Linked DNA regions of Homo sapiens: region 2 is linked to region 1. Evidence: fine-mapped expression QTL. A gene starts in region 1. The other region holds a variant in brackets. All regions are shown on one strand. Distances are between the middles of the regions. Region 1 holds the start of AARS2 (alanyl-tRNA synthetase 2, mitochondrial). Region 2 overlaps TMEM151B (transmembrane protein 151B).

Region 1 (5,236 bases):
CATCAAGTTCAACTCGTTGATCATCAAGTTCAACAGAGAATAGCAGTGACTTGTTTAAGCTGTCACAGGCAAAGACTACAATTAAATCAGTTATTATCTATAAGGTGTTGAGAATTGTGCCTGACACACGGTAAGCACCGTTTACATGTTTGTTTTTATATGAAACAGATCAAAGTCTTCTAATTGCCACCTTTCCCACTTCTAGTCAGGGATTCTCATCCTGCTTCAGCACCCTATTACCTGTTGTGTTGCATGAAGACCAGGTTCCAAAGCTCTACCAGCTGGGGGGCTCCCACCCCACCAGCAAGGTCGTAGTGGATCTCAGTACAGGGCCCACAAGGGCCAGTATCCCCCATCTCCCAGAAGTTCTCTTGTGGTCCAAAGGAAAGCACACGGCTAGCAGGCACCCTGGGGAGAAAAGCAGGTGAGTGGTGGGAGACAGACAGACCCAGAAGCTGGGACTCTCTCTGCCATGAGAGCCCCTCCCTCAAGTCACAGCTCAGCAAGAGGAGGAACAGGGCTGACCCCACAATATCCTGGAATGAAATGCTAAGACTCTGAGGATTGGTGCTGGTAGTCTCCACTTTCCAGTCCTCCTGACCTCCAGGAATGAACATAAGAAGGGGGCTGACTTACCCTAAGCTCAGCCAGATGTCCCTGGTCTCCAGGTCTGGGTCCAGCCCTGCCTTGGGGTCACCATCAAAGTAGGAGATCCAGAGCCTTTCCTCAGGGATCCCATAGACCTGAGTCAGCAGTTCCCAGGCCATGTTACAAGCCTCCTCCTGCAGCAGAAACCAGCATGGGGTGGGGGGGGAAGACGGGTGAGAGGGAGACCCCACTGAAGTAATCAAGCCACATGAGTTTAGCTCCCGACTTAAGACAAAAGCATTTCTGCTGCCATCTTGTTCCCAGAATAAGCCATGAACCATTACTGCCTCTGAGTGTTTTCCTGCCCAGAAAGCTTCCCCCTTCTTCTAAGTCCTATCTTCTTTCAAGTCCCAGACCAAGTCCCACTTTCACATGAAATTCTCTGCCTACTCTAGCCTAGAGTGATCTTTAACTCCAGTAAGCACCTTAGCATTGCTGTTTGACCATTTATTCAAACAACAATTTTTGAGTGATCATTAGGCAGAAAGTACAGTCTCTGCCCTTCAGGGACTTACAATCCAATCAGGGAGGTGAGGTAATTCCTGTTACACCGGCTCAACTAGCACTTTGCCTCCACATCTGGTATGAGGCCCTGCCTAAGCAGACAGTACAATGGAAACAGGACAAATTGACTCCCTTCTTGGCTGATCACTGATCCCCAGAGACTCACCTTAAAATATTCACCCCCAAAGGCCCAATTGCCAAGCATTTCAAAGAAGGTATGATGGGAAAGGTCTCGACCCACATCTTCCAGGTCGTTATGGTGTCCTCCAGCTCTCACACATTTCTGGCTGTTGGCCACACGTCGGAAGCCTGCCATCTCGCTTCGTGGATCCACGGTGCCCAGAAAGATTGGCTTGAACTGGAAGCACATAGAGTGGGGAGGGGGAGAGGGATATCCAATTTCTCAGTAGAAGGGAAATGTGGGGAGTGAGGATAGGGATGGCTGTTCAGACCGAAGGCTGACTGTGCCCCTGAGAGTGCAGTGTAATCTTGGTCTATGAGGACAAACTGGGAGCCTCGGGACAGCCATCTCTGGTGTGTGGGGAGCAGAGAAGAGGTAAACAAATCATGAACCGGAGACCCTCTGCCTAGTAAAATAGGCAAGGTAAAAGAAGGAGGAATGTGTTGGGAGCTGGAAATGGGACGCTGAAAGGTGGCATCCTCCGTCTCAGCTTCTTCAACCACACCCAATAACTTCAGGGAACAAAACTGAGACTCATTTAGTAGGGAGCCCAGACGGCCTCTAAGGTTAACTTATGCCGCCCCTATTTTACAGATGAGGACAATGAAGTCTAGAAAAGATGAGTGGTTGATAAAAACCAAAACCTTAGAGAATAGTACTCAGCAAACAATAGGTGATCAATAAACATTTAATGAAAGCGTTATCTTTATTTAAATAACGAATAAATGAAATCAGACTTCTCCCTCGGGATTCCACTCCAGCCATTTCTGGACCTAATACTCAATCCCAATCCAGAAGTTCCCAGCTCAAGCCCTCCCCAAGCCCTCCCTATACTCTGAGCGCCGTACCCCCATCACTTTACCCAACCAAGCACCGCCCTCTTTCCCCAAAAGCTACGAACTCCGCCTCTCGCTTCTTTTGCCCAATCCTGCAGCGTCTTTCTCACCAGAAAACTCACGAACTCCGCTCCCTATCAGTATGGTTCGGCCCTCACCTGGTTCATGCCCGCATTGACAAAAAGCAAACTGGGGTCGCCGCGGGGCCGCACGGAAGCGGAGGGCACCAGCCGGTGGCCATGGCGGTCCCGAAAGAAGTTCAGAAAGGCGGCCCTCACGGCCGAGGCCTTGGCTGCAGGGGGCTCCGATGAGAGCGGCCGATGGCTGAGGCCCCGCCATGCGGGCGACCTTCGAATGGCCCGCCGCAGCCTCCGGGCTGCAGCTGCCACTGACGCTGCCATCGTAGCTCCGGGCAGTGACTTTACGTGGTCAAAGAGTGACGAGGGAAGGAAGCCAGGCGTTTCCTACAGCGGCCCCTGGCGGTAGGAGGACTCAGGGGGCGGCCTCTGCCGCCGGGGTGGAAGCGATCGATTGGGTCGCTGGCAGAGTCTAGCACAGCGCCCGGCACATAGTAGGCTCTTAATTCATTCGGCATTAAGCAAATATTCATTGAGAGCCTACTATGTGCTAGGCATTGTTTTGGGCTTTTAGGGTACAAAATTGACAAAATGCCCTGCCCACTGAAATCCGTATTCTAGCAGTAATTGCTGTTGTGCTTATTAGTTTTGCAAAGTTACAGATGGGGTTGCAATAAACAGGTGTGGATTCAACTTCGTGTGTGTGTGTGTGTGTGTGTGTGTGTGTTTTGTGTGTGTTTTTCCAGGCTGAGGGAAGAAGGCAGAGAGTGACAGGGGAGTATCAGCATTCATTCAAGAGGTATTCAACAAATATTTATTGAAGACCTAGTATGTGCTAGGCACTGTTCTAGGCATTTGCCAGTTTCCTTGGACCTTGGCATCAGACACGGCCATTTTTGCCCGTGAAGCAGGAGTCTATAGGAGAACACAGAAGCCAAACAGCATCTGCTATATTATTAATTGCCTAACATTTGGTCTTCTCATTTGCCTGGGGATCAGAGAGAATCCAGGTCGTCAAGGCAGGAGGAAGCTGTTGGCTAATAGCTGCAGAGATTTCACTCTCTAAGCCTTCTAATGCCCTAAGGTTTTGTGTGTTTTCGTTTAGGATAAGAGATATACCTGTTCTACCTCTCCCTTCTGTCTTTCCATAGTAACAGCTGTGACCCTGAAGCCAACAGGCCCTTGTGGATGCAATCAGGGTGCTCATGGGGCTTCTCATGATGCCCTTGGCTTGGGAAATTAAACAGATTGGGAAGACAGAAGAGAATCTGCCAAAGCTAAAACTCAATAGAGGTTCCAGAGCTGAGGTCAGTGTAATAACCGAGAAGGCCTTAGCCATCAGGGTGGTCTCTTTTAGCCACGATTCTGTGTGTGTTAAGTTATTTGGGGTCTTTGTATACATAGTTTCTCTGCGGAATCTACATTGGACTTGAATTTCTATAGTGATAGTAAATTCTTAACTTTGTGTTCTGACAGCACCTATAACTCCTATTCCATGATCCCCTTTTTCTCCCTTTGCCCACATAGATTAAAGGTGTTGTTTTGAAAGTGTGTTTGGCCTGTTTTGGTTTTTCCAGTGTTTCTGGAACAGAAAGCTAAAGCCAGCTGGGGATTTCTGTGTGATTAATGACTTTTTTATTTTTTTGAGATGGGGTTTCACTCTTGTTGTGCTGGCGTGCAATAGCACAATCTCGGCTCTCTGCAACCTCTGTCTCCCGGGTTCAAGCAATTATCCTGCCTTAGCCTCCTGAGTAGCTGGGATTACAGGCATGCATCACCACGCCCGGCTAATTTTGTATTTTTAGTAGAGATGGGGTTTCTCCATGTTGGTCAGGCTGGTCTTGAACTCCCGACCTCAGCTGACCTGCCTACCTCAGCCTTCCGAAGTGCTGGGATTACAGGCATGCACCACTGCGCCCAGCTGAGATTGATGATCTTTAGACAAGACTGTGAAATTATTTCCCAAACTGAGATGGGAGTGTTTTGCCATACAAACCTGGCAGGGCCTCTACTCAGTACTGACATCAACTTTTTTTTTTTCAGATTTTGCCCAGAAAGTCATTGTGTTACATTAGAAACTCCAAACATGGATCTAGTGTGGAGCCATATAATTTTTTTAAAACAGCTTTATTGAAATATAATTTACATGCTATACAATTCGCCCATTTAAATAAAGTATACAGTTCAATGCCTTTTAGTATATTTACATAGAGTTGCCCATCCATCACCACAATCACTTTTAGAACATTTTCATTACTTCCAAATAAAACCCCAAATCCTTTAGCCATTAACCCCCAATCGTCTCATCCTTCCTAGCCCTTGGCAACCACTAATCTACCTTCTGTCTCTACAGACTTGTATATTCTGGACATTTCATGTAAATGGAATCATGTAATATGTGGTTCTTTGTAACTGGCTTCTTTCACATAAAATAATATTTTCAAGGTTCATCCATGTTGTAGCATGTACCATGGATTTTTAGAAAAATGTTTTTAGTTGTTTTCTGTTTGAAGTAGGTTTTTCTCTCATCTAATTTTGTCTTTGCCACTAAAAATGATAATTTTCTTTTCTTTAAATGTGGTGCTCTTTGGTGAATCATTAGGTTCTTTTTAATATTTCCCAGTGAAGCAAAGCGGTTCATCTAGGATTGGGACGTGTCTGTTCTGGTTTGCAGCTGTCATCTGATGAGGAAGTTAAATTGAAGGACTGCAGTTTCCCAAGATAGATGGAGGTGGAGAAAACTCATCAGACAGGGAAGTTACCAATCCTGGGAACTTCTCTGAAGGGTACTGATCCACTGTCTTAGTATTTATGGGAATTTCATTTTGAGGTTTAACATGCAAATGGGGTCTGCTTTTTGCGAGTTACTCAGCTGGGTTTTGTGAGCAACATTTGGGGTGCTCCTTTCATTGTTTAAGACAGTGGTGCTTTATCTTCCCTGGAGGTGGGATTTACCCTTACGTTGCCATTCGACCTACTTATCTTGGTAG
Region 2 (5,236 bases), 33 kb before region 1:
CCCAGCAGATTTAGCACCCAGGGATTGAGCTCACATTTCAGGCTAGAGAGGATAACCCTTGGGCCACCCACATCTCTCACCCCTGATGCTTCTTACTTCGCCTGAGCCATCAGAACTCCTCCTTACCCTCCTTCAGCCCCTCTCATCTTCCTTCAGCCCAGCCAGGCCTGCACCACCAACTGTGTGGCCTCCACCTATGCAACATCGCCTCTGGCTCCCCTTCCCTTCTTCCTAGCGGGGAGTGCGAGGGGCCCAAATTGTGGGGATACCATGGCCCATGGCTTCTAAAGGGTTTAGCTTTACTTTCAGGTAGAGATGGCTGAGTGAGGAGGGAGAAGAGGCTAGAGAGAGGGAGGCTTGGGCAGGGGAAACAGCTGCCCACCAGGTTTTCCTGGACAGCAGTGCCCACCTGCCTACTAGCACTGAACCTGCCTGGACCCTGAGTCTGTGCTCCTTGGGGGCCTGGCGTTTGGAGCACCCTTCTTTCCTCTGAATGGACATCTGTGAGGTACAGGTGGTGAGCTGCAGCCTCAGGCTCCATTTCTTAGCCAGCTGGCACCTGGATGTCATGCTTTGTGTGGGGACAGCCTGGCCACCTCAGGGCTCCAAGGAAGGAGGAACGTGGCTCCTCCTCCCTCAGGCCTGTTCCTGAGACAGAGCCTGGTCTCACAAGAGGGGAAGGGGGACCTCTATTATTATTTTTGCCTGTATTGACCATTTCTGCCTAGGTCGTCTCAGACAGCCTCATCTCCCACACATGCACAGACTTAGAGAGAAACCAATTCTTTGGTCTATTTTCTTGGTAGCTTTACTGATTGCCAGGGAAAATGAAAACCAGAAAATTAATTAATCTCTAAAATTAAACTTTACACTGAATGTTCTTGTTTCTCTAATTAGAACTTCTGCTAGCAGCTGTGGCTATACACACACACACACACACACACACCCTCACACCTACACGTTTGCACTCCGGAACTGTCAGAGGGTGTCAGGCACAGACAGACTCTAGGTTGCCTAGACAGGCACACACATGCAGTCACTCCCAAGCCCCCTTTGGTGCTCTGCTCAGCGCCTGCTTAGCGGAAGGAGTCCCTGGAGAGCAGGCACTCCTGGACTGGGGTTGTAGCCCATGACCTGCCCTTTGGGGACACAGTTCTGGAGGCTCTGGGCCAATGAATCAGCCCAAGGAGGATGGGCAATGGCGCTCAGCCTGAATCAGTCAGCTAGGTCTCTTGTGGCCCTGGGGGCTGATGTGATTCCTGTAGGTGTGGCCCCAGGGTGGACAGCTACAGAGTGATGGGGGACTCATGTAGGGCACCTGGAAGGCTCCATGTGTCCTGGGGACAAGGGCTTGTGGGGTGGGCTGGGCCTGGCTGGGGAGAAGACAGGTCTCTGTCAATTGGGTGCATCACACTGTGGCCTTTTTGTCGTGGATTTAAGCGCAAAGATTGTACAAATCAAACTGGTGGATAATAAAGTCGTGGATGACTCACTGACTTCCTGTCCCAGTGTGGCACTTCTTTCCCTCCCTCCCAGGGAAGCTCTCTGGGGTGGGTGGCAGGGATTGTGTCATCCTTCCCTGGAAGTTGTCATCTACAGTTGCCTCCCCAGAGGAGTCCACTGGGTCTGAGCCCCTGGTGTCAGCTCATTGTCCCCTTCCCAGGTTGGGAGTTGGGGAACTAGGGGATGGCGTGGCCTGTAGAACTGGATCACTTAAAGCAGAGTCAAGCAACAGGGAAATGCATCTACAGGGATGAGGGTGGCAGAGAGAGCCAGGCATAGCCCTGCTGTAGCCAGAGGGTGTGTGTGTGTGTGTGTGTGTGTGTGTGTGTGTGTGTGTGTGTGTGTTTGAAGATCAAGGATCTGTTTGGTAGAGAAGAAAATGGTGGGGAGTCAGGGAGGCAGGCAGCCCCAACGGGAGAATCTGGCAGGCACAGTCCCTCAGACACCTCTCTGACTTCCCTGTTCCTGAAAGAAGTTGGTCATTTGTGGGTGTCCAGTAATATCCTTTCCCTGGGCACAAAGGCTGGGTCCCTACTGCATACCCTTTCTTCCCCCATGCCAGGCTCCCTTCCCTGCCTCATGTCTCCATCCATACAACCCTTGATCACTCCAAGGTTATTCACAGTCCCCCTCCCCGCTCCCTCTGAACCAGTGTGATACTCTGCAGCAGGCATGGCAGGGGTATGAAATGAGGGATGGGGCTGGGGCCATGATCCAAGTCAGGTCATTTTATCCCACAGAGTTCTCAGGGCCATTGGCAGTTATGGTTGACATGAAGTGGCTGGGATTCAGGGCCCGCTGGCGGGCTGCTTCTCGGTTTGCGTAGAGGGCCTGGCCAATGAGGTACTCGCTTTCCTGGGCCACATCTGACAGGCGCAAGTCAAATTCCAGGAGGGTCTTGTTGTCTGACATGCCTTCCAGGAGCTGCTTCCCACCGTCCTGGGAGAAGGGTGCAAAGGAAGGGGTCATTTACATCACTACCCAGGATCTGACACACATACTACACATTTTCAGGTAGATGTGACTAAAACAAAAGTTTCACAAAACAATACTTAACCTATTTGTGAC[G/A]CATGATGACATATTCTGTTCTTTTCCATTTGAAAAATGGTAGCCAATACCCACTAAATTGACATCTCAACCCTACTAGTTTGAAAAACATGAATCTCTGGCAATGAAGATAATTCCATTCCTTTGGTTCAGCCATGGGCATGTGGGACAAATCTAATGAGATGTGAGGGGGAAGCTGAGAGAGGGTGGCTTCTGGGAAGCTTCTCCTCATTCCAAAAAGAGAAGAAAAGGGAGCAGGTGTTCTCCCGGTTTCTGCCTCTGGGCATGTCCCTGTATGAGATGTCAGAACTGTGGCAGCCATCTTGGGACTGACAGAAGCACTAGCGAGGCATTGGCCATGAGACTGGGGTGGGCAGAGCAGAGGGTAGCACTGAACCCAGGGGTTTACCGACCCTACAACCCTCTAATTCTGGTTGTGGGAGACACTGAATATTCCTCCTGCTTAAGCCATTTCTGATTAAGCTTTTTATTACTTGCAGTCAACAGCACCCCCTCTAGAAACTGTGTGTGTGTGTGTGTGCGCGCATGCACGTGTGTGTGCGTGTATGTGCCTGTGTAGGTGAGCAAGGCTGTTCTCATGGGGAGGTTTAGTAGAGGGTTCAGTGACCTAATGGAGGGCCCTGCTCAATGGTCATCACAGCTCCAACCCCTGCTGGGCTGGGTGGGCTAGCCCCAATGTGAAAGAATTTCACGTTGGGAGGCAGAATGCTACCATTCTGTGGTTGTGACCCAGTAGTGTGTTGCAAAGTCAATTTAATGGGTCACAGAAGCATTTTAAAAAATACAATAGAATGGAATGTAAAGGAAAATATCAGCATATATCACGTCATAAATTTCAATATTATGTTTATGTCAGTGTTCATGTAAATTGCATTTTTTTTTTGAGACGGAGTCTCGCACTGTCACCCAGGCTGGAGTGCAGGGGCACGATCTCAGCTCACTGCAATCTCCGCCTCCTGGGTTCAAGCAATTCTCCTGCCTCAGGCTCCCAAGTAGCTGGGGTTACAGGTGCATGCCACCACATTGGGCTGATTTTTGTATTTTTAGTAGATATGGGGTTTCACCATGTTGGCCAGACTGGTCTCGAACTCCTGGCCTCAGGTGATCTACCCACCTCAGCCTCCCAAAGTGCTGGGATTACAGGCGTGAGCCACTGTGCCTGGTCGTAAATTGCATTTCTTACTCTCAGACTTGGTTAAGAAAGTTTTAGAGACACAGTCTATTAGAAAGGACTCAGGCTTTCAATCAATCTTGGGTTTGAATCGTAGCCTTGCCACTTGCTACTGACTTGATGCCCTTGGGCAACTCACTATCCTCTCTGAAACTTAGTTTTCCATCTAGAAAGTAGGGTTAAATATACTTAGTTATATACTTAAATATATTTAGGGTTAAATATGCTTAGGGTTAATATACAGTTACTTAGGTAACTGTAAGGATTAAAGGAAAAATAATCATTGGGATACACAGTATGTGTGCATACTTGATGCAGTATGTAGTATGTAAACTCTGTGATCTTCACAATTATCCCACAAGTACCCCTGGCAGTTGGATTCCACACCCACCCTCACAAGCCCAGAATAGGTGGCTCACCAGCCCGATGTGGTTGCAGGACAGGTTGATGCTGGTGAGTGTGGTGTTGATGGCGAGCACCTGTGACAGGAGTGTGGCGGTGGGCTCAGACAGCTCATTGCCACCGAGGTGCAGCGTGGTGAGGCACTTGTTGGTCTGCAAGGCATGGGCAAGAGCCTGGCCACCCTCATCCTCGATGCAGTTGAGACGTAGGTTGAGGGAAATGAGGTTGGTGTTGTGTGCCAGAGCGTGAGCCAGGGACTGGGCACCGGGTGCACGCACCTGGTTGTTAGCCAGGTTGAGCACACGCAGGCGGCTGTGGCTCAGCAGCTTGGCAGCACCTCGTGCACCACGGTCTCCAATGAGGTTTTGTGACAAGTCCAGCTCCTCGAGGACTGGGTGGTCCAGAAGGCTTCGAATTATGATGCGTGCCTTGTCATCATCCACCTTGCTTCGGGTCAGCTTGAAGATCTGTGGGCAGGCAGAGGGTCTACAGCAACTGCCAGCCAGGGATAATCAGCCTGCCCACCTAGATCTTTGGCAAACTTGGCTCACCTAGTGTTGGCCACCTGGCTGGGTCTTGGAGGGGGCCAGGCCTACCAGCATGGCAGAGTAGTGTAGAATTGGTGGCAGGTAGCAGGGAGGAAAGATCACTGTTTATTGAGCAATTACTACATGCTGGGTATGCTGCTTGGGTCTTCCTTTTTTATCTTTTTTTTTTTTTTTTTTTTTGAGACGGAGTCTCGCTCTGTCACCCAGGCTGGAGTGCAGTGGCGTGATCTTGGCTCACTGCAAGGTCCACCTTCCGGATTCACACCATTCTCCTGCCTCAGCCTCCTGAGTAGCTGAGACTACAAGTGCCCGCCACCACGCCCTGCTAATTTTTTGTATTTTTAGTAGAGACAGGGTTTTACCGTGTTAGCCAGGATGGTCTTGATCTCCTGACCTCGTGATCCACCCGCCTCAGCCTCCCAAAGTGCTGGGAATACAGGCGTGAGCCACCGCGCCCGGCCGCTTGGGTCTTTCACAACCATTATCTCTAACCTTCAGCATCTCGATGAAGAAGAGAAAGTTCTCTCCATTTTACAGACAGAAA

The links. PIP is the estimated chance that this variant, and not a neighbour inherited with it, causes the effect. A credible set is the group of variants that fine-mapping cannot tell apart.
Region 2: its variant is the best candidate, but not a certain one, in a credible set for the expression of AARS2 in whole blood (INTERVAL, PIP 0.80).

What each region holds. Positions count from the first base shown.
Region 1 is chr6:44,310,754-44,315,989 of GRCh38, forward strand. AARS2 (alanyl-tRNA synthetase 2, mitochondrial) reads right to left here and starts at 2,594. Exons shown (of 22, transcript NM_020745.4): 1 at 2,328-2,594; 2 at 1,319-1,510; 3 at 637-782; 4 at 241-408. The coding sequence starts at 2,570. LOC124901322 (a long non-coding RNA gene) reads left to right here. Exons shown (of 3, transcript XR_007059594.1): 3 at 3,398-3,794. RefSeq lists an enhancer at 2,339-2,898.
Region 2 is chr6:44,277,949-44,283,184 of GRCh38, forward strand. It overlaps TMEM151B (transmembrane protein 151B), which reads left to right. Exons shown (of 3, transcript NM_001137560.2): 3 at 1-1,496. It overlaps DRC5 (dynein regulatory complex subunit 5), which reads right to left. Exons shown (of 5, transcript NM_182539.4): 4 at 4,162-4,611; 5 at 786-2,442. The coding sequence ends at 2,233. Among named protein-coding and RNA genes, the nearest start is that of TMEM151B, 10 kb to the left of the region's middle. The variant G/A (reference allele first, on the strand shown) is at 2,572.